2 separate regions of the Homo sapiens genome follow, and region 2 is linked to region 1. Evidence: fine-mapped expression QTL. A gene starts in region 1. The other region holds a variant in brackets. All regions are shown on one strand. Distances are from middle to middle.

Region 1 (16,815 bases):
AAATAATGTTGCTGAAATTTTGACAGGAACTGCATTAAATTGGGGGAGAAATTATATTTTTACTATATTGAGTCTTCCACTCCTTGAGTATGGTATGTTTTTCTCTCTTTATTCAGATCTCGGACTTCTTTCATCAGCATTTAGCAATTTTCAGTATACAAGTCTTGTCATGTTTTGTTAGATTTATACTTAAGCATGTCATTACTGAGGAGTTATTGTAAGTGGTATTGTGTTGGGGTTCTTTTGTTTGTTTATGTGTTTTTGAGACAGAATCTTGCTCTGTCGCCAGGCTGGAATGCAGTGACGCAATCTCGGCTCACTACAATCTCTCTCTCCCGGGTTCAAGCAATTCTCCTGCCTCAGCCTCTGGAGTTGCTGGGACTACAGGCACACAGCACCACACCCGGCTAATTTTTGTATTTTTAGTAGAGAGAGAGTTTCACCATGTTGGGCAGGATGGTCTCGATCTCTTGACCTCACGATCTGCCCACCTCGGCCTCCCAAAGTGCTGGGATTACAGGCGTGAGCCACCGCACCCAGCTGGTATTGTGTTTTTAATTATGGCTCCAACATGTTCATCGCTAGTCTGAAAAATACAATTGATTTTTGTATGTTGATTTTGTCTCTGCAACTTTGCTGAACCTACCTGTTAGTTCTAGGAGGTATTTTTGTAGATTCCTGGAAATTTTATATGTAGATTGTGTCATCGGAAAATAGGAACAATTTTATTGTTTCTTTCCTAATCAACATGCTTTTCTTTCTTTTTCTTGCCTTATTACTCTAGCTGGGATTTTCAGTAGTGTGTTGAATAAAAGTGGTGAAAGTGCCTGCACTTGCATTGTTTACAAACTTAAGTGTAAAGTATTCAGACTTTTACTATTAACCATGTTACTGTTACAAAGTACATGTACAAAGTACAAAAAGCTGTGGTCTTTTTGTAAATGTCCTTTATTATATTGAGGAAGTTATCCTCTATTCCTAGTTTGGCTAGAGTTTTTATCATAAATGGGTGTTGAATTATGTCACATGCTTTTTCTGCATAAATTGATGAAATCATGCAATTTTTCTACTTTAGCCTGTTAATGCAGTGTTTTATTAAAGTGACAAATTTTTGAATATTCAAACAGCCTTGCATCCCTGAAATAAACTCCAGTTGGTGTATGTGTGTATATATGTGTGTATATACATATGTATGGATGTACATTTATATATTGCTAGATTCCATTTGCTAACTTTTTTTGAGGTTTTATTTCATCTGTGTTCATAAGGGATATTGGTCTGTAGTTTTCTCTTTGTTTGTACTGGATTTGTCTTTTTCCAGTCTCAGGGTACTATTAGCCTAATAAAATAAGTTGGGAAGTGTTCCCTCCTCCTTTTCTATCTTCTGTAATAAAAACATTGTAGAATATGTGTTAATTCCTCTTTAAATGTTTAAAAGCACCTAGGAGAGAGGATATATTTTGAGAGACTTTTAAAAATACAAATTAAAAATTATCTATTGGACAGAGCCATGTGTAGATCTTAGCCTTTGCACTTGCAAATCAAAGCTTTACAAGAGATGCTCTCCAAAGTCAATCCTTTACACCTCTACAACCCCATGATTTTAAGAATTGTTGTTTGACTTCTTTATGCAATGCAAAATGATATAGATAATCTTGTTTATCTTTCTACTTACCTACATCATAGTTATCAGAAATGAAATAGTTCTGGAAAGCCCTTCAAATGCCTCAAAATAGAGGCAAGGTTATTATTATTTTTAAAATGAATACCAATATGTTAACATTTCTATAGGAAGTAGTTGGTAAGCAAGGATTTCTCTGAAGGAGCTTATTGCAGGTGCTAATCAGCTCACACTATTTTTTACTGTCTGTGCTGAAAAAAGAATTAATTACTTCAGTAACCTCACTTCTTCACATACCTAAATAATGCATACCCCTATTCTGTGGAGAATAAACTAAATTTGATAGAGAAAAGTTTAATGCGTAGCTAAAGATAGCACTGTAATCTCCTTGAAAGAACTCTCAGCACTCTCCTCCCTCCTTTTAAACAGACTTTCCTTTTCTGAAACTGCTAATGAATGGTTCTTGTATCCTTGTGATTCCCTCTCTCATTGTATATCCTCCCACATATTTCCAAAGACTATTAAAGTTCATTTTCTTCCAATATTCATAAGTAATTTTCCTGAAGTCCATTGGATCCTTACCAGAACAATTGCAATAACCTGTCCCCGAAAGTCTTGTTTTCTAGAAGCATTGTTTAAAATTAAGACATTGCCTTTGAGCTTCAGGTACAAGATACATAAAGTTCTCACTCCATCACTACAAAGTTCCCCAGTGGTCTAGTCATCTCTCATTGAAATTGTTTCCCTTAAAATACGTGTTTCTCCATCATTCTACAAAAAGGGCATTTTTTTTTTTTTAAGACGGAGTCATTCACTCTGTTGCCCAGGTGGGAGTGCAGTGGCACAATCTCAGCTCACTGCAACCTCCATCTCCCGGGTTGAAGTTATTCTCCTGCTTCAGCCTCCCGAGAAGCTGGGATGACAGATGTATGCCACCATGCCCGACTAATTTTTGTATTTTTAGTAGAGATGGGGTTTTGCCATGTTGGCCAGGCTGGTCTCGAACTCCTGGCCCCAAGCAATCTGCTTGCCTTGGCCTCCCAAAGTGCTGGGATTATAGGCGTGAGCCACCGCGCTGGGCCAAAAAGGGCATTCTTGAAGGTCATTGATGATTTTCATCTCCAAAACTGAGTAGTCTACCTCCCTCCTGTCATTCTGAAGAATTTTATATTGTTTACCAAAACTCCTCGACAAGTTCTCCTGCCTTATTTCCTACTATGTAGACTCTCTCTTCACCTACCTTCCTGTTTTTCTCTTCTCATTATCTAATCATATGAATTCTATGGTTCCTTAAAATGTTCTTAAACCTGTCTTTCACTACTGTCTATTTGTTCAAGTATTCAATTAGAGTTTCAACTATAACTTCTATGCTGACTATTCTCAAATCTCTCTTCGTCTTCTCATCTGAACTACAGTCCCAAATCTCCAGGTTCAGTTAGCATTTTTACTTGTATGCCCCCCACAACACCACAAACTGGACATGACTGAAACCAAACTCCTCTGCTTCCCCTCCGCCTTTCCTGTCGAATGGCTTCAAGATTCTCTGCTTCAATAAGTCTCTAACCTGGAAGACTGAGTCATCTTTAATTAAAGACTCTTTTTATCTGAGAACCAGGCACCAAATCAAGCACATTTTTTCCCTAGAAACTAGGATTAGGTGGAAGGGAAAAGACCTTGAAGCTAACCATATCCACGTTTAAATTTATTCATGTTTAAAGTTATTTACCGTAACTTTGCATGAACTTGGATATATTATCTAACATCTCTGAGCTTCAATGTTTTCACATGAAAAAGACGGAAAATACATACCATGAAGTTGCTGTGGTAATTTAATGAGATAATACACTTAAAATGTTTGGCATATAGTAGAACTCAAAAATGTTAGTTGCTTCTCAGACGTGATTTTTCTATCTGTTCCATTCTCCGAGTTCCCACTGCTAAACTACCACACTCTGTTCAAGTCCCTCAGTCCCATGTACTTGAGATATCAAAAACAAAGCCCCCATTTTTCAACCCCACTTCCCTGCATTCTACTTTCTCCAAAGGGACCCACTTCCTTCATTAATGTCATATGACTCCTTCATTCTAAGTTTCCCACTGTTTTACCATATTAACTTGATAGTTCATTGACTGTCCTTAAGGTTCCTAAAAGTTCCCTTTTCCTTTCCCCTGACCCAAACCATCCTTCTCCATTTCCCCTTTCTCCTTAACCTGAATTTTTTGTCCTAGTCCTCCAGGCTGCCCTGATTTCTTCCCAAAGGCCACACTTGTTTTTTTTCCCTGAAACTTTAACATCCTTCTATCTCTAATTTCATACCTCCTATAGTATCAGATCAAACCCACTCCCCTTATAGGTCTTTGCCTCAACTCTCCAGCCTCTCCAACCTCCCTTCGGCCCTTCTTGCCTGCAACCATTATTAACACCTAATAGCATTCTAATTTGTGTTTGTTGGGCTAATTGTCTTAGTCTGGCCAGGCTGCTATAACAAAACACCATAAACTGGATGGCCTATAAACAACAGGAATTTATTTCTCACAGCTCTGGAGTCTGGGAAGTCCAAAATCAAGTTACCAGCAGACTTGGTGTCTGGTAAGGGCCCGCTTCCCGGTTGACAGATGGCCACCTTTCCATTGTAACCTCACATCACAAAAAAGGCATGGGGTTTCTCTCAGGCCTGTTTTACAAGGGCAAGCTAATCCCATTCATGAGAGCTGTACTCTCATGACCGAGTCACCTCCCAAAGGCCCCATCTCCTAACACCATCACCTTTGGGGTTAGGATTTCAACATAGGAACTTCGGGGGAACAAAAACATTCAAACCACATTCGATGTTCCACATCAGTGCTTACAAGCACTTGGGTTTCATACACCAATAACATTTCAAAGCCTAATTAGGCTACTGGCCATTAGATTTACATTCTTTCTTGCCCTAGGAGAGACCTTTAAAAATAATTTGAAATCCTTATTTCATTTTAAAAGTATATTTTACAAAAGATAGTAGGGCATAATGTTAGAATAAAAAAGTTTACATTGAATAAATTTAGATTTGGGTAAAAAAGTTCTATTATCCTTGTTTTTTTTGTTTGTTTGTTTCTTTTTTTTTTTTTTTTCATTTTGATATGGACCAGAGGAAGCTATCAGGAAAATCCTTGGACAGGGAATCTCCATGATTGTCTCTCTATACCTACTGTTTCTGTAACAGGGATAATTGATACTTGGAGAGTTCCTACTATGAACCAATTAGTAAAACTTTGTGTGTGCCTGTGTGTGTGTATGAGACAGGTACTAGTATGCCATTCTACAGACAGCAAAACTAAAACAATTTTCTCATGACTCACAGTGAATAAATGGTGAAAGTGATATTTGGACCCAGTTATTTAAGGTCCAGTGTTCTTGATTGCTAACTACACCACACTGCTGCTACTTCTTTAGACTCTGTGGTATGAGTATGATTCTATATACAAAATAAACATACCAATATGTACAATGATAATTGCAACATTTGCCATAATATAGCACACCTATTGAACAGAATAATGGCCAGATATATATCATCCCAAGGAAACTACTTCCATAAAGAGTATTTATAAATTGTAAAGTGCTGTACAGATGCAAAACCAACTGTAATTATTATCATCAACAGTGCTAACTGGAATTCCATAAGTCAAGTTTGCCTTAGACCATCACAGCAGATTTATTAAATAAAACACTATCACTATCATTTCTAAGGGAGTCCCATATATGAGACTATTTTAGGCCAGCAACATTAACTCATCTTTAAGAGAGTTTTGAAGAAATCGGAGTGATGGCAAATTAGCCCAATTCACTGCCTGCAATATTTCACTCTCTTACTGTTGCCTCTAAGATTATAGGGACTGCCCTAAGCAAAATGGTAGAAACCGTCTTAAACATACTCTTGTCTTTCCTTACATAACCCTTTTTATCTTACCTTGGGGGAAACTTTACACATTCTTCCCATCTTTCCCACTCTCTGCCCTAAAAGAATCTTTTAGCCAGCTGTTCCACTGGAAAGCATCTAACCGACAAATTCACATTTTTGTGTTTTGTTTTTCCAGGACCATGCTAATAACATACCAAGCCATAAGCCATAGAGATACATATTTAGTGAGAATATTTCAGATACAGTGAATAAGGCCGTTGTAGAGATATTTAGAGCAAAGAACATCACACTGGTGGCCCTTAATTGAGCTGACAAATATTTTTTCCAACTGATACGGGCAATTGTAAATGGTAATGAATCATCCTGAAAGCACAATCCCTCTCAGTATCTTCAATACCCACAAGTCTTCTACCAGTTCTGTGTCATCACAGTAATTCACCACAATGAGTTCCACCTTAAAGTGCACTGCTCTCTACCCAGATTTTACAACTACCCCTCTCCCAACAATATGACTTTTCTTCACTTCACTTTCATGGCCTCTTCTATTTTTCTGTATCACCCACAAAAAATAAGAATAGAAGCAAGTCACTTCGTAGTAAAGGAGTAATGTCCTGTACTATTTTCCCGACTGGCCACAAGTCAACAAATGGTTCTAAATTTTTACTCTCAATAATTTGCTGAGTACCTTCAGTCAATTCCAGAAAGATTTTGGAACCTCAATTTCACTCTCTGTAATAAGGGAGAACAAAATGACCTCTGATGTACCCAACACCTGTAGAATTCTACAGTTCTGTAATATTAACTATTATTCAAAGTAAAGATGAAGGCATAAAGACAGAGAAACATAATACATCCTTCAAGAGGTAAAAGCCACGTGTAACTAAACAAATTTCCTTTTAAAATAATGAATAAACTAGAAGACATTGAGAATGCCTTAAAATTCCTAATACAATTCATGGAGAAGTATGGAGGAGTTGTAATGTGACTTGATCAGAATATATCCGGTTCAACAACCAGATGAAAAAAAAAAATTGGTCAGGTAATTTGTATTTATCCATACCAGTGGTTTCCAAAATACATTCCAAAGAACACTACTAATTGTAAAAAATAATAATAAAGATTGCATTTAAATGCAAACTGAGCCCTTGAGGGTTGTCTGGACTTAGTGACTCATTCCACAAAATAGAGTATGGAAAGGGAGAAATAATAATTTTACAGTGTAGAAAACTTGAATAACACAAATTATCCAAGGGACCGAGGTTGACCTTACCAATGATGGGTCACGTTGACATCAGGTACCTATCTCCCCAGTATGATGTGATGAGATAGGCTCTTCATCTCTGTGATATTTTCTTCCAAAAGCCCATAACCCCAGTCTAATCATGAGAAGTTACATCAAGCATACCTTTTTGAAGGACATTCTACAAAATTCCTGATCATTACTCCTCAAAACTGGAAAGATTATGAAAAATAAGAAAAAACTGAGAAACTCTCACAAACTGTACATAACTAAATGCAGTATGGTGTCCTGGAGTGGAACTTGAAACCGAAAAAATACATTAATGGAAAACTGGTAGCATAAAGTTTGGAATTTAGCTAATGGTAACACACCAATAGTGTTTTCCTATATTTGACAAATGTATCATGATAATGAGATATGATAAGATTAGAGGAAACTGAAACTGGCTGAGGCTATACAGGAACCTCTCTGCACTACCTCCGTAACTGTTCTGTGAATCTGAAATTATTCCAAATAAAAAGCTTATTTAAATAATTGATGAAGATATCCATTAGCAAATTCGTTTGGGGAACTTTGGATTAAACAACTGATTTTTCTCAATGTCTGTAAATATCATAGCTCCTAAAATATCCAATAAGCATTGTGATTTTAACAGAGAGAATATAGGGTGCTGTGTTTCTCAAACATATTTGACCAGAAACCTTTTTATTTCTTCAAATAGCATCTTTTACAAAAAGTACTGACACAGAGAAGTTTTCTCCCAAGGTGTCAGACTTCTGTCCTATACTAGACCATGATGAAATTTTAATCAGTGACTGACTAAAGAGACAAAGATGCTATGAACATTAAATTGGCAGAAGACTTGAAACTAGAGACTAATATGATGGATGACAGAATAATCATTAAAATTATATTTCATAGGTTACATCAATTGATCAAACTTAATAAGATGACTATAAAAGGATACATACATAGTCTTCATTTAGGTAAGCAAATTAAAAAAAAAATCAGCTGAGTAAGTAAAAGAAGCAAGAACTTAAATGCACGTCATGTTACTGTGAGCAGCTTTGTGTCTCAGGAGTTCTTAGGTCAAATTAGTAGAATTGTCATGCTCAGTAAAGATGCCCTAATAGTAGGAGTAATGCCATTTCTGCAGATTGTTTGCTTGTCTTTTCCTGTTTTTTAGTTCTGCGTGCTACATTGTAAATGGTCCTCAATGAACCATTTCCAAAGGAGAGGCAATAGGATGATGTGTGTCTTGGAAACCATGTCATAGCAAGAAACGTCGAAGAAACTGGAAATGTTGCCCTGATGCACAGAAAACTTTGACAGAGGCTGGGCGCGGTGGCTCACACCTGTAATCCCAGCACTTTGGGAGGCCAAGGCGGGTGGATCACCTGAGGTCAGGAGTTCGAGACCAGCCTGGCCAACATGGTGAAACCCTGTCTCTACTAAAAATACAAAAAATTAGCCAGGCTTGGTGGCAGGCACCTGTAATCCCAGATACTCGGGAGGCTGAGGCAGGAGAATCACTTGAACCCGGGAGGCCAAGGTTGCAGCGAGCCAAGATCATGCTATTGCACTCCAGCCTGGCCAACAAGAGTGAAACCCCATCTCAAAAAAAAAAAAAAAAAAAAAGAAAGAAAGAAAAGAAAAAGAAAAAAAAGAAAACTTTGACAGATCCTTTAGTACACAAGGATACAGGAGAATCAAGCCTATTCTGTATAACTTCAGAACTCAGAAGGACTTAAGGACACAGGAAGCCGCACGTTTTGGTTCAAAAAACTTTTGTAACCATTAAACAGCCTCATAATGGAATGGATATTTTTGAAATGAAGTGAGCTCCCTGCCTCTGGGAGTGTCTAAATGGAAGCTGGATATCCCTCTGTCCAGACTGCAGCTAGAATGTCTTCTACGTGTACCTAATAAATGAGTTCTACACAACCTTCCAGTGCTAAGGTCTCAGAAGCTATCAAACCACAGGGAAGGAAAAAAAATGAAGAGGCACTGAGAAAAGTGACAAACCACTAAAAACAGCCCCTAAAGTACCTTAGGCACTGCTTTACCTCTCTTCTAACCATCATCCCTGTAATAATATCTGGAAACTGCCTAAACAAGTGTTGACATTTAGTTGATGAATTAAGGCAAAACGCTGTCCTAGAGTGTGCACCTAAGAGATTTCTGATTAGTAGAATTTAAGTTACACTAGAGGACAGGGAATGATGAATTTATCCTGACAAAGTACTGTATTCACTCCAAAAGAAATTTACCAAAATAAATGAACACACGAATATATAAATAAATAGTTTTACTTTAAATGCATTATTTTTTTCTCTTAGGGAAATAACTGGCTTATATAAAGGACAATGTGTATATGGTGTGTATGTTTAAGGCGTGCTTCAAGGTTGCTCTCAAGCTGAGCCAGAACTATCACGAGAAGAGTGAAAGGAGCACCCGGGACGCAGAAGTTAAGGAGGCAGTTACTCCTAGGGTCCTGTAAGTGCTGGCAGGGTCAGCCCGTGAGAGTGAGTGCCTCTTTAAATTTGCGTCACAGACGCCTGCTTACCTCACCCCAGTCCAAGCCCTGTGATTGGTCAGGCCATCAAAGCCTCGCCCCCTACACGACCCGGAATTCGACGCCAACACTGGTTTCTGGGGCAACTTCTGCGTAGCTATGTGACTAGCACCCGGAAATAATTGCCACCGCCATCTTTTGGTGCAGAAGGTGACGGGAAACAGGCCGCAGACCTGAACTTCCAACCGTATGTAGGCGAGAAGCCGGTGCCGATACTCCCACTATCCCACAATGTCCCACTGGGCCCCAGAGTGGAAGAGGGCGGAGGCTAATCCAAGAGACCTTGGGGCCAGCTGGGATGTCAGGGGCAGCAGAGGCAGTGGCTGGAGTGGCCCCTTCGGCCATCAGGGACCGAGAGCAGCAGGCTCCCGTGAACCACCACTCTGCTTTAAAATAAAGAACAATATGGTTGGTGTGGTCATTGGTTACAGTGGATCAAAAATAAAAGATCTACAACATTCGACAAACACTAAAATACAGATCATAAACGGGGAATCTGAAGCAAAAGTCAGAATTTTTGGCAATAGGGAAATGAAAGCAAAGGCCAAAGCGGCTATAGAAACACTTATTAGAAAACAAGAAAGCTACAACTCAGAATCCAGTGTGGATAATGCTGCATCCCAAACCCCTATTGGAAGAAATCTAGGCAGAAATGACATTGTTGGAGAAGCTGAGCCATTGTCAAATTGGGATCGCATTAGGGCAGCAGTCGTGGAGTGCGAAAAGAGAAAATGGGCAGATCTACCACCAGTTAAGAAAAACTTTTACATAGAATCCAAAGCAACAAGCTGCATGTCTGAAATGCAGGTGATTAACTGGAGAAAGGAAAATTTCAACATAACGTGTGATGACTTGAAAAGTGGTGAAAAGCGTCTCATTCCAAAACCAACTTGCAGGTTTAAAGACGCTTTTCAGCAATACCCTGATCTTCTGAAAAGCATAATAAGGGTAGGGATTGTAAAGCCAACGCCAATTCAGTCACAGGCATGGCCAATTATTCTACAAGGAATAGATCTTATAGTAGTTGCACAAACCGGAACAGGGAAAACATTGTCCTATCTAATGCCTGGGTTTATTCATCTTGATTCTCAACCAATATCTAGAGAGCAAAGGAATGGGCCTGGGATGCTAGTCCTTACACCCACTAGAGAGTTGGCTCTTCACGTGGAAGCTGAATGTTCAAAGTATTCATATAAAGGTCTCAAAAGCATTTGCATATATGGTGGTAGAAACAGAAATGGACAAATAGAAGACATTAGCAAAGGTGTAGATATCATTATTGCAACTCCTGGGAGGCTGAATGACCTACAAATGAATAACTCTGTCAACCTAAGAAGCATAACCTACTTGGTTATAGATGAGGCAGATAAAATGCTGGATATGGAATTTGAACCCCAGATAAGGAAGATTTTATTAGATGTGCGCCCAGACCGACAGACTGTTATGACAAGTGCAACTTGGCCAGATACTGTACGTCAACTAGCACTTTCTTATTTGAAAGATCCTATGATTGTTTATGTTGGTAATCTGAATCTAGTGGCTGTAAATACAGTGAAGCAAAATATAATTGTTACCACAGAAAAAGAAAAACGAGCTCTCACCCAAGAATTCGTAGAGAACATGTCACCCAACGACAAAGTCATCATGTTTGTCAGCCAAAAACATATTGCTGATGACTTGTCAAGCGACTTCAATATCCAAGGCATATCTGCAGAATCATTACATGGCAACAGTGAACAGAGTGATCAAGAGCGAGCAGTAGAGGACTTTAAAAGCGGAAACATAAAGATACTGATTACAACTGATATAGTATCCCGAGGTCTTGATCTTAATGATGTCACACATGTATATAATTATGATTTCCCAAGGAATATTGACGTATATGTACACAGAGTAGGGTACATTGGACGGACAGGAAAGACTGGCACATCAGTTACCCTCATCACTCAGAGAGATTCGAAAATGGCCGGTGAATTGATTAAAATTCTGGACAGAGCAAATCAGAGTGTTCCGGAAGATCTTGTAGTAATGGCTGAGCAATACAAGTTAAATCAACAAAAGAGGCACAGAGAAACACGATCAAGAAAACCTGGACAAAGACGCAAGGAGTTTTATTTTTTAAGTTGAAAAGTTGTACCAGGCTACTGGAAGATTCCAGGCATGTTAAAGATATGCAGTATTGAATATATGTAAGGAAGTATTGGAAACATACTAGCCATTTGAAGACATAACTAATTCTTAAATAATACTGCTAAACTTTCAATATTGTGTATGCTCCTTAATTTTAAAAAAGTCTCAAAAATGAGAGAGTGAGAGACTGTGTGAAGAGAAAGTGAATGTTACGTGTTGGTTAAAGTTTAATTTCTCTTAAAAATACTTTTATTTTAGGTTTGGGGGTATATGTGAAGGTTTGTTAAAGAAACACGTGCCATGGGGGTTTATCAACTTTCAATATTGTGTATGTTCCTTAATTTTAGAAAAAGTCTCAAAAATGAGAGAGAGACTATGTGAAGAGAAGGTAAATGTTATGTGTTGGTTAAAGTTTAATTTCTCCTAAAAATACTTTTATTTTAGGTTTGGGGGTATTTGTGAAGGTTTGTTAAAGAAACACGTGTCATGGGGGTTTATCAACTTTCAATATTGTGTATGCTCCTTAATTTTAAAAAAGTCTCAAAAATGAGAGAGTGAGAGACTATGTGAAGAGAAAGTAAATGTTACGTGTTGGTTAAAGTTTAATTTCTCTTAAAAATACTTTTATTTTAGGTTTGGGGGTATATGTGAAGGTTTGTTAAAGAAACACGTGTCATGGGGGTTTATCAACTTTCAATATTGTGTATGTTCCTTAATTTTAAAAAAGTCTCAAAAATGAGAGAGTGAGAGACTATGTGAAGAGAAAGTAAATGTTATGTGTTGGTTAAAGTTTAATTTCTCTTAAAAATACTTTTATTTTAGGTTTGGGGGTATATGTGAAGGTTTGTTAAAGAAACACGTGTCATGGGGGTTTACTGTACATATTATTTCGTCACCCAGGTATTAAGACCAGTGCCCAATAATTATCTTTTCTGCTCTTCTGCCTCCTTCCACCCTCCCCCATCAGCTAGACCCCAGTGTCTGCTGTTTCCTTCTTTGCGTTCATAAGTTCTCATCGTTTGCTTCCCACTTATAAGTGAGAACATGTGGTATTTGAGTTTCTGTTCTTGTGTTAATTTTATAGTCTACCATGTCCATTTGTCTTCTCTAAAACACTTGGTAGAAGACAACAATGGTGCTTTTCTGGCTTTAAAATAGTTGTACTAAATTGAAGCATAGCTTCAAGCTTATCCAGTCAAAGTATTCTCTTTTCCCCCGAGCAGTTGGTGCCACAACAGTTCTTAAAGTTATTTCCACTATCATTCTCTACTTGTTTTAGTTCATTAGAAAATAAGTGCTAAATTTTTTAGAAGATTCCACAATTCTATTTTTATCAGAATGATGTCACCAGCAGAGCAGGATGTCTGACTCACTGGGATTCAGGTCCTTGTATGCATTTTGTCACTAACCCTTGGTTAAAACTCTGAGGAAATCACTTGCCTTCTCTAGGCCTCAATTTCTCTACTCATAAAATGGGACAGTTTTATTAATTTAGAGGTCTCTTTTACCTCTAAAATTCGGTGACATTATAACTAAAACTGTATACCCCAGCCTTGTATTAACACTTTTTTGTCTAATCTAGGGGAAATTGCATCCTTGTATAATTGAATAAAACAATCCTTTTCAATGACAAGAATAGTGCATTCTGCATTTTTATTGATTTTGCAATTTAACTGGTAGGTTTTCATTTTATTCTTTGCTTTTCTTTTCATCATGCTTTATTTTAATTCAATTTGAAGGTCAAAACCATATATATATAGATACATATATCGGGGAAAAAATTAAAGTGAAAGAAAAATTTATCTACTGGGAAAAACATTAAAACCAATCAAATAAGGGCTGGGTGCGGTGGCTCACGCCTGTAATCCCAGCACTTTGGGAGGCCGAGGCGGGCGGATCGCCTGAGGTCAGGAGTTCAAGACCAGCCTGACCAACATGGAGAAACCCTGTCCCTACTACAAATACAAAATTAGCTGGGTGTGGTGGCGCATGCCTGTAATCCCAGCTACTCGGGAGGCTGAGGCAGGAGAATCAGTTGAACCCGGGAGGGAGAGGTTGCAGTGAGCTGAAATCGTGCCACTGCACTCCAGCCTGGGCAACAAGAGCAAAACTCTGTCTCAAAAAAAAAAAAACCAAAAAAAAAACCAAATGACGTTTTTGCCATAAGAACCAATTTTAGTAAAACTCTTCCTAATTTTATCTATAATTCTACCTCTTATGCCTTATTTAGAAGCAAGGTGCTTCTCACACCTGCAAAAAGAAATCCCTACAAAGATGTTAAGTAAACTTTAAAATTCAGTGTTCATGAAAACATTAGAATTAGTTAACATTTCTGGTAAAATCAAGAGAAAAATTAAGGCAACAAACTTTTTTCCCCAGCATGCCTTACCTGTGACTACAAATAAGTCAGAAAATAAGGGAAAGAAAGAAGTAAATGTTCTAGGTATAGGTATTTAAGGCTTAAAGTATAGACTTTAAAGGCTTTTTAAAATGTAGACCTTAATATCTCTGGATAAAATTAATAACAATGGTTAACATTGTTGAGTGATACATACCTGGCGCTTTATCTCCTAATCTCTAATATTTATAAGAACGCCACTCGGAAGGAAATCTTACCCCTATTTTGCAGGGGATGAAGCAAAGTCAGAGGAGCTAACTTGCCTAAGGGCCCTAAACCTGATTAAAGAGAAATTAAGTGATATTTAGAGGACTTAAGGGATATTTTGACCCGGCAGTGCCTGATTCCAATATTTATATTTTTTAATTTTAGTATAGTTATTATGTTTAAAGGCAATATGCTTGTCTTGAGGTTCTCTACAAGTTCAGATTTAGTGAAATAGAGAAGTGTGTGCAAATTTAATGCAAAGGCAATCTATAGCAGAACTGTAATAGAAGCTCAAATGGCTTAGTGCTGTTCACTCAAGAGGAGAAATGATAAATGTTTAGCAAGTTAGAGTATATGTTATTTTCCAGAATTATTCTTAGGGGCAATGCTATATTTGTTAGAAAAGAATGCAACAACTCAACCACTTGAGATAGTATATTTCCATAATCATGTGTAAGTAACACTTAACAAGAAAAATTATCACTCAATGTCTATGAGTAAGGAAATGAGAGATGTATGCATTTCTTCTACAACATAATGCTGGACAGAAGAACCAGTGTATAGAGAAAGATAAGTAGAAATAGTGCAATGACTGTTAACCAAGGGTGATTTTGCTCCCCAGCGGAACTTTGACAATATCTGTGGACAGTATTGGTTGTTACAGCTATGGGTAGGGGGTGAGGTGCTCCTAGCATCTAGTGGGTAGAGGCTGAACACCCTACAATCTACAGGACAGCCCCTCACAACAAAGAATTATCTGGCACAAAACAATAGTGCTGAGATGGGGAACCCCTGAGACAGCATAAGAAAAACAACCAAAACCAACTGCTTAGTAACCAAAAAGGCACGTCAAAGAAAAAAAAAAAATAGAGGGTTTCTAAGTTATATCTTGCGGGTTTTGCAGAGAAAAAGTATCCCTACAAACTTCCTGTCTTTGGTGTAGTCTACATCAGTGGTTCTCTACCAGGCCCAATTTTGTCAATGTCTGGAGAAAGATTTGGTGGGTTGTTGTCTTAGTCCATTTTCATACTGCTATGAAGAAATACCCAAGACTGGGTAATTTATAAAGAAAAAGAGGTTTAATGGACTCACAGTTCCACATGGCTGGGGAGGTCTCACAATTATGGTGGAAGGTGAAGGAGGACAAAAGGTGCATCTTACATGGTGAGCAGGCAAGAGAGTTTGTGTAGGGGAACTCTCATTTATAAACCATCAGATCTCATGAGACTATCATGAGAACAGTGTGGGAAAGACCCACCCTCATGATTCAATTACCTCCCACCAGGTCCCTCCCATGACATGTGGGAATTATGAGAGCTGCAATTCGAGATGAGATTTGGGTGGGGATGCAGCCAAACCATATAATTCTGTCCCTGGCCCCTCCCAAATCTCATGTCCTCACATTTCAAAACCAATCATGGCTTCCCAACTGTCTCTCAAAGTCTTAACTCATTTCAGCATTAACTCAAAAGTCCACAGTTCAAAGTTTCATCTGAGACAAGGCAAGTCCCTTCCACCTATGAGCCTATAAAATCAAAAGCAATTTAGTTACTTCCCAGACATAATGGAGGTACAGGCCTTGGGTAAATCTGCCCATTCCAAATGAGAGAAATTGCTTAAAACAAAAGAGCTACAGGCCCATGCAAGCGTGAAATCCAGCTGGGCAGTCAAATCTTAAAGCTCCAAAATGATCTCATTTGACTCCAGGTCTCACATCCAGGTCACGCTGATGCGAGAGGTGGGTTCCCATGGTCTTGGGCAGCTCTGTCCCTGTGGCTTTGCAGAGTATACCCCCTCTCCCGGCTGCTTTCATGGGCTCGAAATGAGTCTCTGTGGCTTTTCCAGGTGCACGGTGTAAGCTGTTGGTGGATCTACCATCGTGGGGTATGGAGGATGTTGGTCCTCTTTTCACAGCTCCACTAAGCAGTGCTCTAGTGGGGACTCTGTGTGGGGGCTCCCACCCTACATTTCCCTTATGCACTGCCCTAGCAGAGGTTCTCCTTGAGGGCCCTGCCCCTGCAGCACATCTCGGCCTGGGCATCCAGGTGTTTCCATACATCCTCTGAAACCTAGGCAAAGGTTCCCAAACCTCAATTCTTGACTTCTGTGCACCCACAGGCTCAACACCACGTGGAAGCTGCCAAGGATTGAGGCTTGCAACCTCTGAAGCTGCAGCCCAAGCTCTATGTCGGTCCCTTTCAGCCACAGGTGGCATGGCTGGGACGAAGGGCACCAAATCCCTAGGTTGTACACAGCAGGGGAACACTAGACCCAGCCCATGAAACCATTTTGTCCTCCTAGGCTCCAGATCTCTGATGGGAGAAGCTGCCATGAAGACCTCTGACATGCTCTGGAGTCATTTTCCCCATTGTCTTGGGAATTAACAGTTGGCTCCTCATTACTTATACAAATTTCTGCAGCTGGCTTGAATTTCTCCTCAGAGAGTGGGTTTTGCTTTTCTATCACATCATCAGTATACAATTTTTCTGAACTTTTATGCTCTGCTTCCTCTTTAAATGTAAGTTCCAATTCCAAACCATATCTTTCTGAATGAATAAAACTAAATGTTTTTAACAGCACCCAAGTCACCTCTTGAATGTATTGCTGCTTAGAAATTTCTTCTGCCAGATGCCCTAAATTATATCTCTCAAGTTCAAAGTTCTACAGATCTCTAGGGTAGGGACAAAATGCCATCAGTCCCTTTGCTAAAACATAGCAAGAGTCACCTGTGCTCCAGTTCCC
Region 2 (16,815 bases), 260 kb before region 1:
GGGGGAAGGGCTTGGTTCTTCCCCTGCCTGTGGAGCCTGTAGACCAGATTTGTGCCCTCCCCCAAGTTCTGGCCAGGAGGCTTCTTGGCCCATTCAAATTGTTACAAAGTTCAGCTAGAGATTTCTTCCTTATGGAGTTGTACCCGCTGCTCCTCTGGTCACCCTCCTGATGGATCCCTGTGGTTCCAGGCAGGAATGGCCTGCTAGGGGACACGGCAAGCTCCCAGGTCCTTTCTGCTGCTTCTTCTTCCCCTGTATTTCACTTGGCTGTAAATTGACTCAGCCCCAGTTAAAGTCAGAAACTTCTCCCACAAACAGACCTTTGGCTTCTCCAGTGGGGGTGTGTGTTTGGGAGAGGAGGGTCTCCCTGTCCCATTTCCGCAGTTGGGGCACTCACAGTATTTGCGGTGTCTCCCAGGTCCTTGAAGGAGCAGTCGGCTTCCTTCACAGGGTCTGTGGGTCCTCTCGGGATTGCTGATTTGTTCTTGCAGTTGATCTGGAGCTAAAATTCCCAATGTGAGCTTCTGCAAGGTGCTCTGTCTGGAGCTGCAATCTAGTCCTGCCTCCCGTCTGCCATGATTATTTTTCTTACCAAGGACTGAAGAGCTTTTATTTAACCTCATCAAACGTACACATGTTTCTCCTCTCTCTCATGAGAGATGTCTGGGTTCTCAGTGACATCAGTATAATGATTAACTTTATCTCACAACATATGCATGACCATTTCTGAGTAATATTAAAAAATGATTATCAATGGTGTTACATTCATTCCTTTCATTTTCTTTTGAGATTTGTGGATTACCTTTCAAAATTATTAATATTTCTTTACAATTAGGCAAAATATTTACACGGTTCCAAAGCAAATCTACGAAAGTAGAAGTCTAGCCACATCTAGCATATCTGTTTCCTCTATTCTCCTCCTATAAGTATTTAGCTATGTAATTTAAGAGAGAAGATAGAATTGGGAATTAAGGAGAAAACACTTGAACTCAGAGGTTAAAGTTTAATCATTGTAGGAAGGTTGTTGATCAAGAATTGGAAATATTCAGATAAGTAAAGTAGAGGATAAAGTGGAGTGATTTTAAATATTCATTGAATTTGCCAAAAGAGAATAATGATAGAAGACTTTTTTATGAACATGAGCAAAGAGTATAGAAGAGGGAGTGGGCATTAATGCCAAAGTCAGCAGAAAATCTTGGTAAAAATTTACAGAGTTAAAGGTATTTGATTTCTCAATAATGAGGTGCTTTTTTAAATTTCAGAGAAATAAGCTTCCTTGAAGAAGCAAAGCAGAGTTTCAAAGAATAATAAGGAATTGACTGGAAAGGAAATGGAAAAAGATAGCGTAAAAACCTTCTTGTGATCCTGGGTGTTAAAAAAGTAGGAACAGGAAACACACAGGGCTGTTGCTAGCTTGCAAAATACAATCAAATGAAGACACTTTATTTCCCTAATAAGGGAAATCTTAAAGTCAAAGAGAAAATTATCAGACGAGGAGTCTACAAAGAGAAGAGATGAAGGTGGAGCAAAACTCTCAAGAGTCAGCAAGAGCTGAATTCAAGGACAAAGAACAGTCAACAATTCAGTGTCCATGCACAGAGACTGGGCCTCTAAGTAAAAATTATGGGACATACAGCTTACACCAACGAAGCATATAATAAATCTGTATATATTTCTACACCAAATTTAAATTCTCCCATGGAGGCTGACCCTGTTTCCTAGTAGTGATATGCCTGAAAACCAAAAAAATGCCATGTCAGGCTTATTCTCCTGATTTACTACTCCCTCGGAAACAAAATCAATCCAGTTCATTGCTGATTTCTTCTGAGTATACTGGTGCATAGTTCATATTCTCAAATCTACTCCTAATTAAACACAGAATGGCTGTATTTGATTCTTTTGGATGCCTTAAGGTGAGTTCAACATGCCATGCTTACATATATGTTATCCTTGGTCATTGCCCAGGTTGTAAATCCCTGGGTCATTTAAACTCTTCCAAACTCTTATTCCCACATTGCTCCATATAGGCCTACCTTGACCTTTACTCCCGTATTTCTCCTTCCTCTCAAATCATCTCACTGTGTTCTCTGGGAACTCTTATTTCATGGTAAACTCTTCTGTATTCTCAAACTCTTTGTCAAATATTATTCCTTCCATCGCCTAGCCCTAGTCTGTATTCAACACTGCTATTTCTAAACCATCATTCTTTTTCTGACAAATGTCCTTTTGAGGATATGCTGTCCCACTGAATCTGTCATTCATTAACATCTCATCTTGTGTCAGTTTCCAAGCTTGGTTTGTCAGTTACTTGACATGGTCAGGAAGGAAAAAAATGGACATATGGCAGGTAAGTTGCTGAGGAAGAACATGGTGTACTACCTGGAAGACAGAATTAGAGCAGACATAGGGAAGGTGAATTGAGGGACTAGGCAGTATGTGTGAGCCACATTAAATCCTCAAGTAGTGAATAAGGTTTGTGGTATGTTGAAGCTGGCTGATACCAATTCACAAGAGCCAGCTGTTAAATTTTCAGAAATTTTGCAAGCCAGTAGACATCACCCTGGAAGCTCTACAAATATTATAAATCAGGACCCTTTTCTCCCATGAAATCTAGTTGTTTAAATATTTACCAGCACACCACTGGGTGGTAAGAAGGAAGAGGAAATGAAATACTAAAAGGATATAAGGTCAGGAAAGTTGAAAACAAATTTCACCTAATTCACAATTATGTCTAGGAGCAATATCACTCTAAGGCTAAGAAATAAAAACAAAGTAGACTTAAACAGTATATCCAAGAGGGGCAAGATTAAAGATAGATTCTAAAGAAAAATGATGGAAAATGTCATTTTAGCTTGACAAATATGATTCATTTGTATTGAGGCTGAATCACAATTGTAAAGAAATAAATGGAGATGATATTGACATGTTCTCCTATATCCCTAGATACCATTAGGTTGAACTCATTAAACAATATTTGTTTATTCTGTGCTTAATCAGGCACAGCTTTGGTTTTAGAAAACTTAAGTGGGTCAAGAACCTAGAAATCAACAAGAATAATGAGAAGATGGGGGATGTATTAGTCCATTTTGCCTTGCTATAAAGGAATGCCTGAGACTGGGTAATTTATAAAGAAAAGAGGTTTATTTGGCTCATAGTTTTGTAGACTGTACAAGCATGGCATCCAACAAAGAAGGTAAAATGAGTGGTTTCTCTTAGTCCTTTTCCTTTAGGTAAAGTATCCTGAGTTCTTTCCTCCATGGAGCTCTTTAGACACATTTTCTTGAAGGGAGAGATACCTGGAGAAGAAATGGATCTAAAAAAAAACTACTGTGAAAAGCCACTAAAGGCTTTCTCTGGCATCCGGAAACACTAGGCTACTGTTGGTGCTAGAGAAAGATATAAAAATTGAAAAGATAGATTTTTAAAATGCTATAAAACTCATCCTTTATCACTAAGGCTAGGTTATAAAGAGACCTTACTATGCACATAATCCAAACATCATGAATGAAAGCGTATTATAATGGGGCAATTCAAGATGCTATCTTTTGATTTGAAAACAAACAAACCAACAAAACAAAACAAAAGAAACAAACAAAACCCCTTGGCTTGATTTTTAATTCCAGAGTGCTTGTTATAACATGCATAATCTCAGATATGTGTCAAGCAAAACAAAATGACTGAGCAGTTATGCTGAGAGCTGATTTTAGCTACTGTACAAATTCAAAGACATTTTTCAAGGCAATACTTAAAAGTCCATGCTTCTAATATCTTTAATTACCATCTTCCTGTCAATACTGAAAAAAAAAAATCAGATACAAAATCAGACCTGAGAAAAACCAAAGGACCTATGTTTATTAATTAATCACCATGTTTTTACTTTCCTAGAACTTCTATATCTACGCTCCAACTTGTTCCACCCTGCTTTATGCTTTTAGGGATCACATCAAATTAGTTTTCTTGTTCTCTGACATTCAGTTGGGTGGAGCCAATGGAAAAAAACCTACTGGAAATCAACAAGAATGAGTGTGAGGTGAAGATATTTATTTTCCTTGCTCATTTCCTGTTTGACAAAATTAACAGGGGCTCCTTTTCTCTCCTGAAGGCTACTCCTCCTCCATGCCAGTAATCATTCCCTCCTGCTGTATCTTCAGGCCCAAGTGGTGGTAATGGCTCCCCACTGTTGCTAGTCTGGAGACTCTGTTGTGCCTTGTTAGTTCCCCTTCTTAATCCTGCTCATACAATTGCCAGTATGCCCCGTATTAAGCTTTCCTCAGTTTTTCCAGTAGAGCACGCCATCTATTTGCTATGCTGACCCTGAGTCAACCTTATTTTTTTTCACTCTTACTTCTGATTGAACAAACAGATTTTTATCCGTTGTTTTACAACAAAAATTGTGTGTTGATATCCTGTACTGTTTACCAGTTGCTACCAGTGCTATAAAGTGAAAAGAGATGAAGAAAGATAAACAAGGACATATATAGTAGGAAGGACAATTTGCTCTGCTATGGTTTTTAAGCTATATTTAAAGGATATGTGTATGGAGGATATGTATGCGTGGTACTCAAAAGACATCCTGAGAGACTACTGTACAAAGAGATGAGCAAAAATATTTCATATATTTGGCAACAAGCCTTATTTTCAACTATTTCTGGAGTGTCTCCATGTTGATTAGCCTGCTTAGAGCCTCCTATGGGCTGTCTACTCAAGATTTGGCATATGGAGGAAAATCACATGATTGTGCAAGCATTTTGATGAGGTAGAGAGAGCCTAGAGAAAGACAGACCATCTGAACTTGAGAAAAAGCTAATCATATTAAGTGATAAAAGCAAGATATAACAGGAACACTTTTATGCTACTAGGGAAAGTATAAATTGGAAGAACCATTCTGGTAAAATATTTTTATCTAATAAAGTTGAATTTTGAGCACGTCCTGCAACCCAGTAATTGCACTTTAGATTTAGACCCTAAGGAAACACTTGCACATTTTCATTAAGAGATATGGGTGAAAATGTTCATACCACTGTTGTTTTTAATATCCATTGATAGGGAAGTGTTCATACTAATGCTTTTAAACATCCATTGATATGAAACAGATAAATAAAAATGGTATATTTTCAATAGGGAATACCATATAGAAGTGAAATGTTCATATATTTCAAAATGGATGATTCTCATAAACAAAATGTTGAGTGAAAAAAAGTTGCAGAAGATTTCCTAAAGTTCAGTATCATTATTTGAGAGTCACCATGCCAGTGTAGCAAAAATATAAAGAAAATTGACAGAGCAGTCACTCCACATTGAGAAGAGTGTCCACTTTGGGGAGTGGGATAGAGAAGGGGATAGTGTTGGAGAGGGCAATATAGGGTGCCCATGGGGAACTTCAAATGTTGCATCTCTCAAGCATGATTGTGAGTTCAGGGGTATTTATATTACCCTTATTCACATATCTCACGTGTGTATGATATTCTTGTTATATATAAAATAACCAATCATAAAAAGGCAAAAGCAAGATAAACTTATTTGCAGTAAGTCAAACTTCATTTTTATATGCATATATGCATAGAACAGGTTCTGAAAGAATTTAAAATACAATATTTTAGCTCATTGGATCATGAGATCATGGTGATCATTTTCTTATATTTTTCAAATTGTCCATCATAAATAGAAAAGTATACTTTTAAAGAAAAAAGGTATAGCCAGTAATAAGTAGCAAATACTTGAAAAAAACACCAATACCTTCAATCAAGTTCTAGAAAAGTTATTGTATTGAATCTCATTGATATTAGGATTCACTGTAAAGAGGAAATACCAAATAAAAGTTCAGACACATGACTAAAAGGCAAATGAAAGAAGGAAATGTTCCCATGAGCCAATGAGAATGTCAACCTCTTGCAACAATTATGTCATAGGAGAAAAAATGTCAGAAGACCATTATAATAAGAAACTGCTTATAAAGCTGCGGAAGGTGACCTTAATCGTCCAGTCATGTTCAGTTCAAACCATTATTTGGCTTTCAGCTGCTATGTATAGCATCTGTGTGATATAGTCATGTTTAAAGGGGCTGTGGCTGTTCATTTACATTTGCAATCTCTCCTTTAGGCTGTTATTAAGATTTCACAGAGTTTGCAAAACGTCTGTCCCCTGAGACCTTGCAAAATGAGTGGCAAGTAAAAAGACTTTTTGATGCTCAATGTCAGGGAGGACGATTCACCTAGCTGTGCTACAGTCCAGAAACACCAAGACCTGTTATTACAATCCTATTTAATAACAAATATGCCAGTTATTGAACTTATATTAACTCTCTGTATAACTGAAGTATACACAATTGTATTTATTGACATACTGAGAGTGGTGTTTGATAACATCATATTGTTTGAAACAAACAAGGCGGTGCAAGTGTTATTCATTATAACACAATATTCAATACTGATATTTAGATTTGAGTCAGAAAGCATGATTTTAAGACTGATGGGCTCCCTGTCATAAACCTTACCTTGTGTCTTTCAAAAATAAAAAAGTTCTTGGTTAGCGTGACCCCTTTTCTCCATAAGCATACACGTCTTATCTTTCTTTAACCCTCTGTACCATGTATTGTTTCTACTAAAGATGTTAATAAGTGAGATTTCCAGTCATCACTGTTTTTCTGGTAGTTTTAGGTACTATGTATATATCTTTTTTTTTAAACGCACATGGTCTCTTAACTAAAACTCAACCAAACATTATATCATAGCTTGAGACAATGTGAAGCATGCTAGGAAAATTATTTGTGAACTTAATATAATTAATTTTGAAAAAGAAACCTAGAAACATGATAATAGGCTTCATATATGGTTTCATAAAATCATAGAACATCTGGTTTGGAAATGGTCTTAATGGTCGGTTAGTCCAACCATTCACCCCGGGCTTAAATCCCTTCTAAAACACTCCATCTATTAGTCTCTATGTCATCCCTGAACTGCCTGTTCCAGGAAGGAAGAATAGAAGACTTTTGGAAGCATTCCATTTAAAATAGGAGGTACTAATTTATATATCCATCTGTGCATACAAAATATTACTCCATGCATTTACTGCTCCTTATTTTAAATGTGGTATGGCATACATTACTGGGGAAAAAAAATCCTTCCCTAGCTTTCTTACACATATTCCTTTAAAAACTAATTTGACAGATCCTGGAGCTTTCTCTTCTTTGACCCCCAAAATGAAATAGTGTCAAAGAACCTAGTTTCTAGGACACATGCGAGGACCTTAAAAAAATACCTCAAATGAATCATCATTTTCATCTTTTAAATTTATTTTGACTGCTTGTGTTTGGTCCAAGCAAGTCAAGGCAAATAGTCACACAGCTTCTTGCCAAGATTATGTTCTAAATAAGAGAGGATACTTGCAAGAAAGACACACTGGAAAACTCAAACAATCCTAAAAAAGCTGTGTTTTATAAGAAAATCACACAACCACCAGATGATCACCATTAGCTGTTAAGATTTAACAGGACAATTCTAAGTTTCTGTGTCAAAGAAAGTTTCATGGAGAAGTGATTTTAGGGCTCTTTTGCCTCTAGGTACAAAAAGTGCTTGGCAAATCCTAAGGAATAATGCTTTTTTACCCTAAAATTTTAACTTGCAGCAATGCTTGAAATCACCCCATTACAGAATCATAGCTTTGGGGTTTAGAGGTCTCTCAGTTTTCAAGATCCCCTGGCACCAAGCTCCTAACACACACCTATTATGGTGTAAAGCTTTACTGAGGGGGTGACTGGTCTGGAATGAAATGCCCAATAGGCTTTTGACAGATAGCAGGGATCTCAGATACTAGAAGATACAGAAAGGGGAAGAGGGAGATTAAAGATAAACTTCACTCCTTGCTCAGTTTTCCCAGTGCTTATCCTTCCAGTGTATGTTAACTTATTTATTATTACCTTTGGTTTATCCTTAAAGTCTTCTTATAGACCTACCTGAGGCCAGGGCAAAGATAGTCAAACACTTTTGTTGATCCAAATGTATGTAACTATCTTTTTTCAGGGATTATATCTCAGTACTTACATCTTTGGGGATGTCTATATAAAATTTATATCCAATCCTGAGTAGCTTTAAGGAGTTTTTGTTTTCTGTTGCTGTTGTTGTTGTTTGTTTGGTTGGTTGGTTTTTGAAATGGAGTTTTGCTCTGTCACCCAGGCAGGAGTGCAGTGGCGTGATCTTGGCTTACTGCAATCTTTACCTCCCGGGTTCAAGCGATTCTCTTGTCTTAGCCTCCCGAGTAGCTGGAGGTGCCCGCCACCACGCCCAGCTAACGTTTTTGTATTTTTAGTAGAGATGGGGTTTCACCATGTTGGTCAGGCTGGTCTCGAACTCCTGACCTCAGGTGATCCACCTGCCTTGGCCTCCCAAAGTGCTGGGATTACAGGCGTGAGCTGCCACGCCCGGCCAGGAGTTCTTTTTAAATTAGCATTATACTGGGCACATATTAGGTGTTTTATAAAGGTATTTTACTGAGAGTAGCTGGAGAACATTTGTAATGGTAAGAAATAGTTCCATAGTGAGTCATTTACCCAGCTACTTTCCAGTTTGAAGAATTAAGTGGGAGTCATTAAGACTGAATCAATTTCTATATATATATTTTCACTTCTAAATTGGCAAAAGAATCTGAGAGGAAGAACAGACTTCAAAACGACTACGTTAATAGAAACAAATGAGCTGTTTATTTTACACGCAGTTATGAATATTATAAATACATTATTCATCCAGCAGCTGAAAGACTTATGTCACTTAAGTGCTTGGGATGATCAAAAGCAAAGTGGTTTCAATTATTAAAAATGGGGAGGTAGGGAGAAGAAACCAGAAAAAAGACTTACTAAATGATGAAGTGCTGTACTGTCATAATGAAAATATGTAGGCCTTTCTAGGTCATAACATTTTAAGTGAATTTAAACTTGTAAGTGCTAAGAAATAAGTAAAGTAGCAAGTAATTCTATATTGCATAGTTAACAATAATTTACTGTATATTTCAAAATAGCTAGAAAAGAAAATGTGAAGTGTTCTCAACACAAAGAAACGATGAATGTTTGAGGTGATGGGTATCCTAAATACTCTTATTTGATCATTACACATTGTATGCATGTATCAAAATATCACATGTACTCCCTAAATATGTACAATTATTACGTAGCAATACAAATAAAATAATCCAGTAAAATGAGTTGGTTTTTGCCTTCATCATTGTCTTATCTTGGGGTTTCCCAAAAATCAGCATCTGAGACAAAGACTGCCTTGCCTCTGAAGGTTAAGTGTTGCTTTTGGCCTCTACCATTCCGGAATTTCCCTCTTTTCTCCATTGATATTAGGAGGTCCAATTGCATGGCAGCATGTCTTTCTGTCTACCCTAGCCTTCAGAGGACATTTCGTTGATCATTGCCATTTCTTATTGCCTGAGTGAAGGAACTGTCCTATGACCCCTCTGGGGAATACGGTCAGGTGGTGGGTTCACTGTTATCACAAAATAAATCTATTCTAACCTTTTACTTCCTTAAGCCTTCTGCACTGTTCAGGTATTCCTGTATCACCACCTTGTTTACTCCAGGTAATTACTGTACCAAAACTTCAAAAAGCTGGCTGGGTGTGGTGGCTCATGCCTGCAATCTCAGCATTTTGGGAGGCTGAGACGGGCGGATCACTTGAAGCCAGGAGTTCAAGACCAGCAAGGGCAACATGATGAAATGCCATCTCTACCAAAAATACAAAAACTTAGTCGGGTGTGGTGGCGTGCATCTGTGGTCCCAGCTACTTGGGAGGCTGGGGAAGGAGGATCGCTTGAGCTCAGGGGGCAGAGGTTGCAGTGAGCTGAGATCATGCCACTGCACTCCAGCCTGGGTGACAGAGTGAGACCCCATCTCAAAACAAAACAAAACAAAACAAAACAAAACAAAACAAAACAAAAACACTTCAAAAAAAGCCATCTCAGAGTATATTAGAGAAAAATTCAGGTGTCCTTGTCAATACTTTGAACCCCAAATCACAGGTGACTGAATAAATAAAAATATAATAGTGTTGTACTTGTATTCTATTTTTATTCACATAAATATATATTTGTGAATGAAGAATATAAAGGTCATTCATTCTTCGGGAGTAGCCAAATATTATTCTTGGATAAAACATGTAATGTCATTGTTCCCAAACTTGTATTCCATTGTTTTGGTTACATGTAAAACTGGTGTTACTGAATATTGCTTTGGCATTACTGCTACAATTCACGTTTTTGAGAAACAAAAATACAGAAACTTCCCTTCGAAATTACTGTCAGAGTGACGTTGAGGACAATGTGTTTCATATCCTGTAACAAGCTGTTCATCAGGACTCTCAAGAGAAATATCTCTTCATGCTCATATCAGGAAAAGATGGTTTTTTGTGAAACAAAACCTTAAAACATATTACAAAAACAGTCAACCTTGCAAATAATGCAGTTCTTTTTGCTTTGGCTACTGGGAAGCTCAGAGCCAAATCTACATTCTACTTCTAGTGATTTAATGGGATTTTACAGTAGGCATTTCTTAAACTAATTGTATCTTCTGGTTTTATTTTATTAATCCACTCTTATTTCCTTTTCCATTGATCTGTTCAACAATTTGTATTTTATTTATTATTTATCACGCAAGCAACTTCAAGGCCTTATTTATACTTACATAGGCATAAATTAATCTAGTTAAAAACAATTGATGTAGAGAGCTATTGAATGTACTACCTTACATTTTAAATTAAATGAGAGATGAGCTTATTGAAAGTAAGTGATACCGCAGAGGTGGAATGGGAAACTTGAAGAGCAGTTTTACGTTGATGAAGAGTAAGCAGCTCTCAAGTCATTAATCAGTAAAGTATACATTTATTATTTAAAAATTACAGCACTGGTAAAATCAGTAATATGGCATTAGACTGATATTTTGTTGCACTGTTTCAAGTCACAATAAAGTTTCAAAGAAACGAAATACTGATTTTACTTTACATGTCTCATTTTCTGCCTAACTATTTAGGTCAGGGAATTTGTCTTTACTTTTAAAAAGTGTATCCATTAAGAATACTAATACTGAGGCTATAGTCTGAGTTTATTTAATTTGCCAATTGAAATAATTCCATGGAAAACTGTCAAATGTATAATTCTGGCACATAACAGAATTAACCTTATATTACAACAAACAAAACTCATTTTAAAAATCAATGAAACCCATATTACAGCAAAATATAAGGAGATAAATTAAAAATATAAAATATTATTAGAAGAGCTTGCCTAGAAATGACGAGCTCTATTGAAACACTACCGCACAGCCAGTTAGAACATGTTTATGCTTAAGAAACGATGGAAATAATTACTAAAAAGAATGACACAAAGAAATATAAACAAGGATCATAAAGCAGAAGAAGACTGAAAACAATGTGTATATAATTGTCGGAATATCAGAGTGCTCTGAACTTTTAAAATCCTGAATCATCCAACAGGATGATGCAACAATATTCCAATCTTAGAATGGGAGGATTTGACAAAACCTTAGTGTTTATCCCAAGCTAGGGGTTAACTCCCAGGGGAAATTATGAACTAAGTGCAGCAATTAATCATGGTGATGAGTAAAAAAGTACAGTAACATCTCTGTGACCAACTCATGGGAGTGTGGAGAAAGTCCCTTTGGCAGCTGTCTGCCCAGCTAATGGTACTTACTAATTAATGGAGAGGCCAAATCTGAACCTACCCTACAGCCTTGTGCTGAAAGCTGCTTTGTAGCTATTCATATAAATGTAGACTGGTCCAGGTCAAAATACAGTAAAAGTGAGGGCACTTTTTGTCTCTATGTCTCTGGAAGGAATAATAAAAGAAAATTATCAGTGAGTCACATGAGGCTCCATAATCCACGATAGACTAAACAGTAAATGTGGCCTTTTCCTAGATCAGTGTGATTAATTCAAAAGTCAGAACCATCTGTAGCAGTTTTAAGAACAGAAATAAATTTATAAAAAGTAATCATACCTTTTCAATAAAAAGTAATAAGTAATACCTTTTAAATATATCTTTTATCAGCATTTGACTGGTAGCAGCCATTTGAGTGGCTATTTCATGCAAGCATTTATCAGCCATTCCGGAAGAGGTGGGTTGCAGTGGGGGCAGAATTCTGGTAACCAAAGAATCATTTATTAAATGGTTCCATTCTTGATCAGTTTAGCTTGCTTATAGTAATCACATCAATTATTTATGGAGCACTTACCATGTGCTAAGACATGTTTTCATGTGACATTTTTTCACTTAGTTACCATAATCCTGTGAAGTGGGTGCTACCATCCTTCCCATTTTCCACTTGAGGAAACAATGGTTTAGAGTGGATAAGTACAAGCCTGGTGTATAGAAGACAGTCAGAAAGTGGGATTAAAGCGTGGGTTTATCCCCATGGCCCACTTAAACTCTTATGTAGTTACTTACATGGATACTGCCTCTGAAGCCATGTTCAGTCAGTTCTCCAGGGAGCTCCATTCTTGCTCCTTGAAAAGTCTTGGTAGTATGCTAGCTGTTCTATTCCAGAATAGAAGCTTCTGT[A/G]CTATTCCAAAGAAATAAGACATGATTTACAATTTCATACATGGTAAGGCATACACCTACCTAGTTTCCAAGATAACATCTCCTATATCTTTTTTTCTCCTCCCTTATCCCTTGTCAAACTTGAAAACTCAATTTTAGATCAGAAAAGGACCCTAGAGGCTATCTTGTCTGGCCTTCTGATTATTTTAAAATGGTAAAACCAAGGTCAAAAGAGGTTAAATGATTTCGAGTTGGTCAGTAGGGCTCCCCAGTGTCTGGAGTCCCCATCTAGTGCTTTGTCCCATTATCTTACAGTAGTTTTCATCTCTGCCCCGTATTTTTCCAGGCATCTGATGCAGGAAAGGTATGATGAAAATGATTTTTTTCAGTCTAGTAAAGGAAACTTTACCACTGACATTTGGACTGCTCTCATGGTATAACAGAAACACTGACACAGGCTTTAGCAAGCTTCTCTATCGCAACCACAGGCTGTGACTCTGGACACAAACAGTACAGAAAATTAATCTCAATTCTCTGTTTGAACTAAAAGGAAGAAAGCAAACACATGAACGTGTCAGAATGGGGAGTTAACCTGGAGAAGAAATAAGAAGCCAGATAAAAATAGAAAAGCAAGAAAGAACTTAGGAAATATATAGGGAAATATCAGCAGTATAAATCAGATTAACATGGGACCCCCCCTTGTCATTTTTAGGTTTAACATTTCTGATCTGTCAGACAGTTTTCCTATCGCCATTTCCTTCTGCTTCCCTGCAGCCCTTCTTTCTGACACCACTTGGGAAAATAATCTGTAAACTAATTACTAATTGACATAAGATTAACTAAAAAGAGCAGTCACACACACATATGCACATCCACACATAAACTTGTGCCTATACACTGTATAAGTCATGTAAATAATCACACTGTACCCCATAAATATGTATAGTTATATCATAAAGAATTTTAAAAGCCCCAAACTCCACAATTTTTAGACACTTTAGATGCCTACTATTGTAATACATAATCTTTCTTGCAGTGTTTCACAGGGTTCTACTGGTATTTTGGGTGAAACAATTATTCCTTGGATAGACTATCCACACGTGACATGATCATTATCCCTTCTGCCACCAAATCCCGTTAGTTGCAGTTAGTCATCCTGACAACCAGAAAACACCCTTAGGCATTTCCAAATGCCCCCAGGGTGGGGCAGTACTTTCCTAAGTGAGAAACACTAGGGCTGAGAACAAGACTCTAGGTCCAACTCAGAGGAATTATTAACATAGATTGATATATTTTATTCAAGACATATTTACTGAGTGCTTGCCATGTGTAAGGCCCTATGGTAGCTGGCTGCTAGGTGCTGGGGGGTACATTGGTAAGTCCAAACAAATAAGGATTTTGCTGTAATGGATCATGCAAGATGGTATGAGAGACACATATTGATTAAATCTTCACACACACACACACACATAAATTATAAAGTTCTAATAATAGCAACAAAGAGACACATAGTGTTATTAGAGTCTACAGAGGATAAGTTAGAGAAGATTCCCTGAAAAAGTGATGCTTGAGCTGAGATCTGAAGCATAAGCAGGAGTTTACTTGGTGATGACAAAGGGCAACAACATTGTTGGTAGAGGAAACAGCATGTTCAATGCTGCACCGATGACACAGAGCACGGCATGTAAGAGAGATGAACAGGAGGCCAATGTGGCTACACCTGAGAGAATGAGAGGGAGCTCCCTGTGAGATGAGGCTGTAGACATAAGGAAAAGCCAGTTCACATGTGGCCTTGGAGCCTAGTCAATAAGTAGAATACCCAGGCGTAACTAACCAAGTGAAAGCTGGTAGAAAGCAGAAGGAAGTAGATTACATAAAACATTGATTGATCAGCGGGTGTTGTCTCATGAACCTTTTAATCAAATCAGCTCTCATCTGGATGGAGGTCAAGTTTGCACAGATAAAAAATATCTTCAGTGTGTTGTGATTGTGTAGAATGTACTCACTCAACAAATTTGGTACCATGCAAGGTCCTATGAAAGTTGTAACATGTAAGACTAGATATCTGTTGGGGAACGTTGGGGGAATCTGGTGACAACCTGGAAAGGTCAAGTGTTTCAGGGGAATGAACACTGAAGTTGAAGCTTCAGGAACTGGGTCTTGCTACCAGACTTTCTTGCCTCATGGGAACTCCACCAGTCCCTGATCAGAATTTTCATCCCTAAAACAAGGACAAAAATACCCAAGTTTCTGGGCAAGATTAACTGAACTATCTTAAGGGAGAACATCTAACCCAATATAGAGTACATCCCAAGTGCACAATTCATGGTTTTAACAAAACAAAGTTTCTTCAGCTGTAAAGTAAAGGTCATAATAACTTCTCTGACACTCCAAGGATGTTGTCATCAGGCCAAATGGGAAAAGCTGGTAAAGAAGCACAAGGTATTACTATCATCAATGAATAAATGTGGCATGAATGGCACCCTGAACTTAACATCCCTTGTTTTCTCTGTTGTAGAGGCGAACTGCTCCATTGAATACCCTTTTCCTCTTAGCCCTCAGAAAAATCACGGGTATGGGCAAGAAGAAATGATGATATGCAGTTTTTGATACGATGAAATAAACATTACTGTGATAAGATTTTAAGTGCTATAAATCTACATGTACACAAATTTTCTTTGGACGCGTTGCAGAAAACAAAGTATTGTTTCCAAATAAGCCTATGGACCAACATTTTGTCAAATGTTAGCTAATCATGGTTCTTTTTTAAGCAAATCCAGTTTACAGCAATTTGCAGGGTGTACCAATGCTGGGGATGCTCCGCCTCATATCCCCTCAGCCCACCTTTAAATAAACATGTAGGTGTAGTGAACACTTCCTAGTATGCTGATAACTTTCCACTGCAAGTGCCTGTTTTCACTGCTTCTCCATGCAAGGGCTTTCTCTGCAACTGTGGCAGCTTGCCCAGCCTGCTTGTTGGGAAGCCTAGAAGCCTCTGAAACTTAACCGCCCTAGGGATTACCCGCAACCCATAATGGCTGAGAGTTGGCAGATAAATATTTCATATTACTTTGTTCTCTGATGGAATTATTCTGAAGCACGTTCTACATGGTTGCTCAGAGGGTCCTCAATAGGACTGAGGCCTAGGAGTCCACTGAGATAACCTGCTTATTAAAATTCTTTTAGGGATTTTTCCCTTCTCTGTCTCACTTCCCCTGCCTTCTTGTATGCACTTCTTATAATTAACTACCTGAACCCACTTCTTGTCTCGTGATATACTTTTGGGAGAACCCAAGGTTAGACATAGAATTCCTGGAATTGTTCAGTTCATAATGCACAATTTCCACTTACAATGGCACACTGATGACTACTCTAAAAAAAATGGCCCTGTTCTCTGTAGAAAGAGGAGATACCTACTTTTAAACATCTCTTAAGGGGAAAAGTCTAAAATCAAGGATACATTTCATGGGAGGGTGAGTGTGATCTGTTTAGAATATCAGCATTTAGATTTTAAACTGCATTTGAACATTAGGCCACACTAATGCCCACTAACTTTGGAGGGTCATTTACTTTAAAAGCAACTAGTTGAAAGATTAAGTAATTTAATTTGATAGATGGCTTTGTGCCTGAATGTGCTTTAACACCTTTTGATCCTAATTGCCTATATTGAAGGTGTTAAGTTTGACTTGCTAAATAAAGCCTAGAAGGAGTTAACATTTCATTTGAGTGACCTACAAATGCCCCCCAGCCAAGCCTCTTGGAGTGCTTCTAATGGATGCTAAATTATACAACCCAAGTGATTAGCTATTTTAGATACTGAATTAGTAAGGATGCTAGACCATAAGCTCAATGAAGAAAAGAGCTGTACTTATCTTATTCACCTTTCTACCTTAATATGGTGCCTTGTACTTACTAAGTGTTCAACAAAGTTTTCTTGAATAAATGAACACATGGCAACCTCCATTTAAATGACTTTTATTATTCTCATATGAGTTAAGATGGGAGAAGATTTGGCATTTAAATGGTTGGCAATCTAAGGAGAAAATACTATCACGCATCTATCCTTTATCTTCAGTGTGAAGTTATAAAGTCAGAAAGCTACCCCACTCTTTTCTGGTCCATTTACATATTCATATCTGGGAAGTGAGAAGCAAGAGAAAGTTGAAAGACTGCAAGATGTAAGAGTGATCCCTAAAAGAAACACTTCACCCATACAAATACTTGCTTAAACTCACTATAGTCTGTTCTTTCAGAAGAATCCGCGTGAAGGAA

Which allele goes with the higher level. Alleles are on the strand shown, and positions count from the first base shown. SD is a standard deviation of normalised expression in the study named.
In carriers of allele G in region 2, the expression in prefrontal cortex of the gene that starts at base 9,472 in region 1 tends to be lower than with A alone (small effect, 0.18 SD a copy in CommonMind).

What was found.
Region 2: its variant is fine-mapped to the expression of DDX53 in prefrontal cortex (CommonMind, PIP 0.95).

Annotation. Positions count from the first base shown.
Region 1 is chrX:22,990,489-23,007,303 of GRCh38, forward strand. DDX53 (DEAD-box helicase 53) reads left to right here and starts at 9,472. Exons shown (of 1, transcript NM_182699.4): 1 at 9,472-13,101. The coding sequence starts at 9,570. The coding sequence ends at 11,465. The region is part of intron 3 of PTCHD1-AS (PTCHD1 and PHEX antisense RNA); the gene reads right to left.
Region 2 is chrX:22,730,779-22,747,593 of GRCh38, forward strand. PTCHD1-AS (PTCHD1 and PHEX antisense RNA) reads right to left here. Exons shown (of 12, transcript NR_073010.2): 4 at 12,451-12,560. Among named protein-coding and RNA genes, the nearest start is that of DDX53, 260 kb to the right of the region's middle. The variant A/G (reference allele first, on the strand shown) is at 12,565.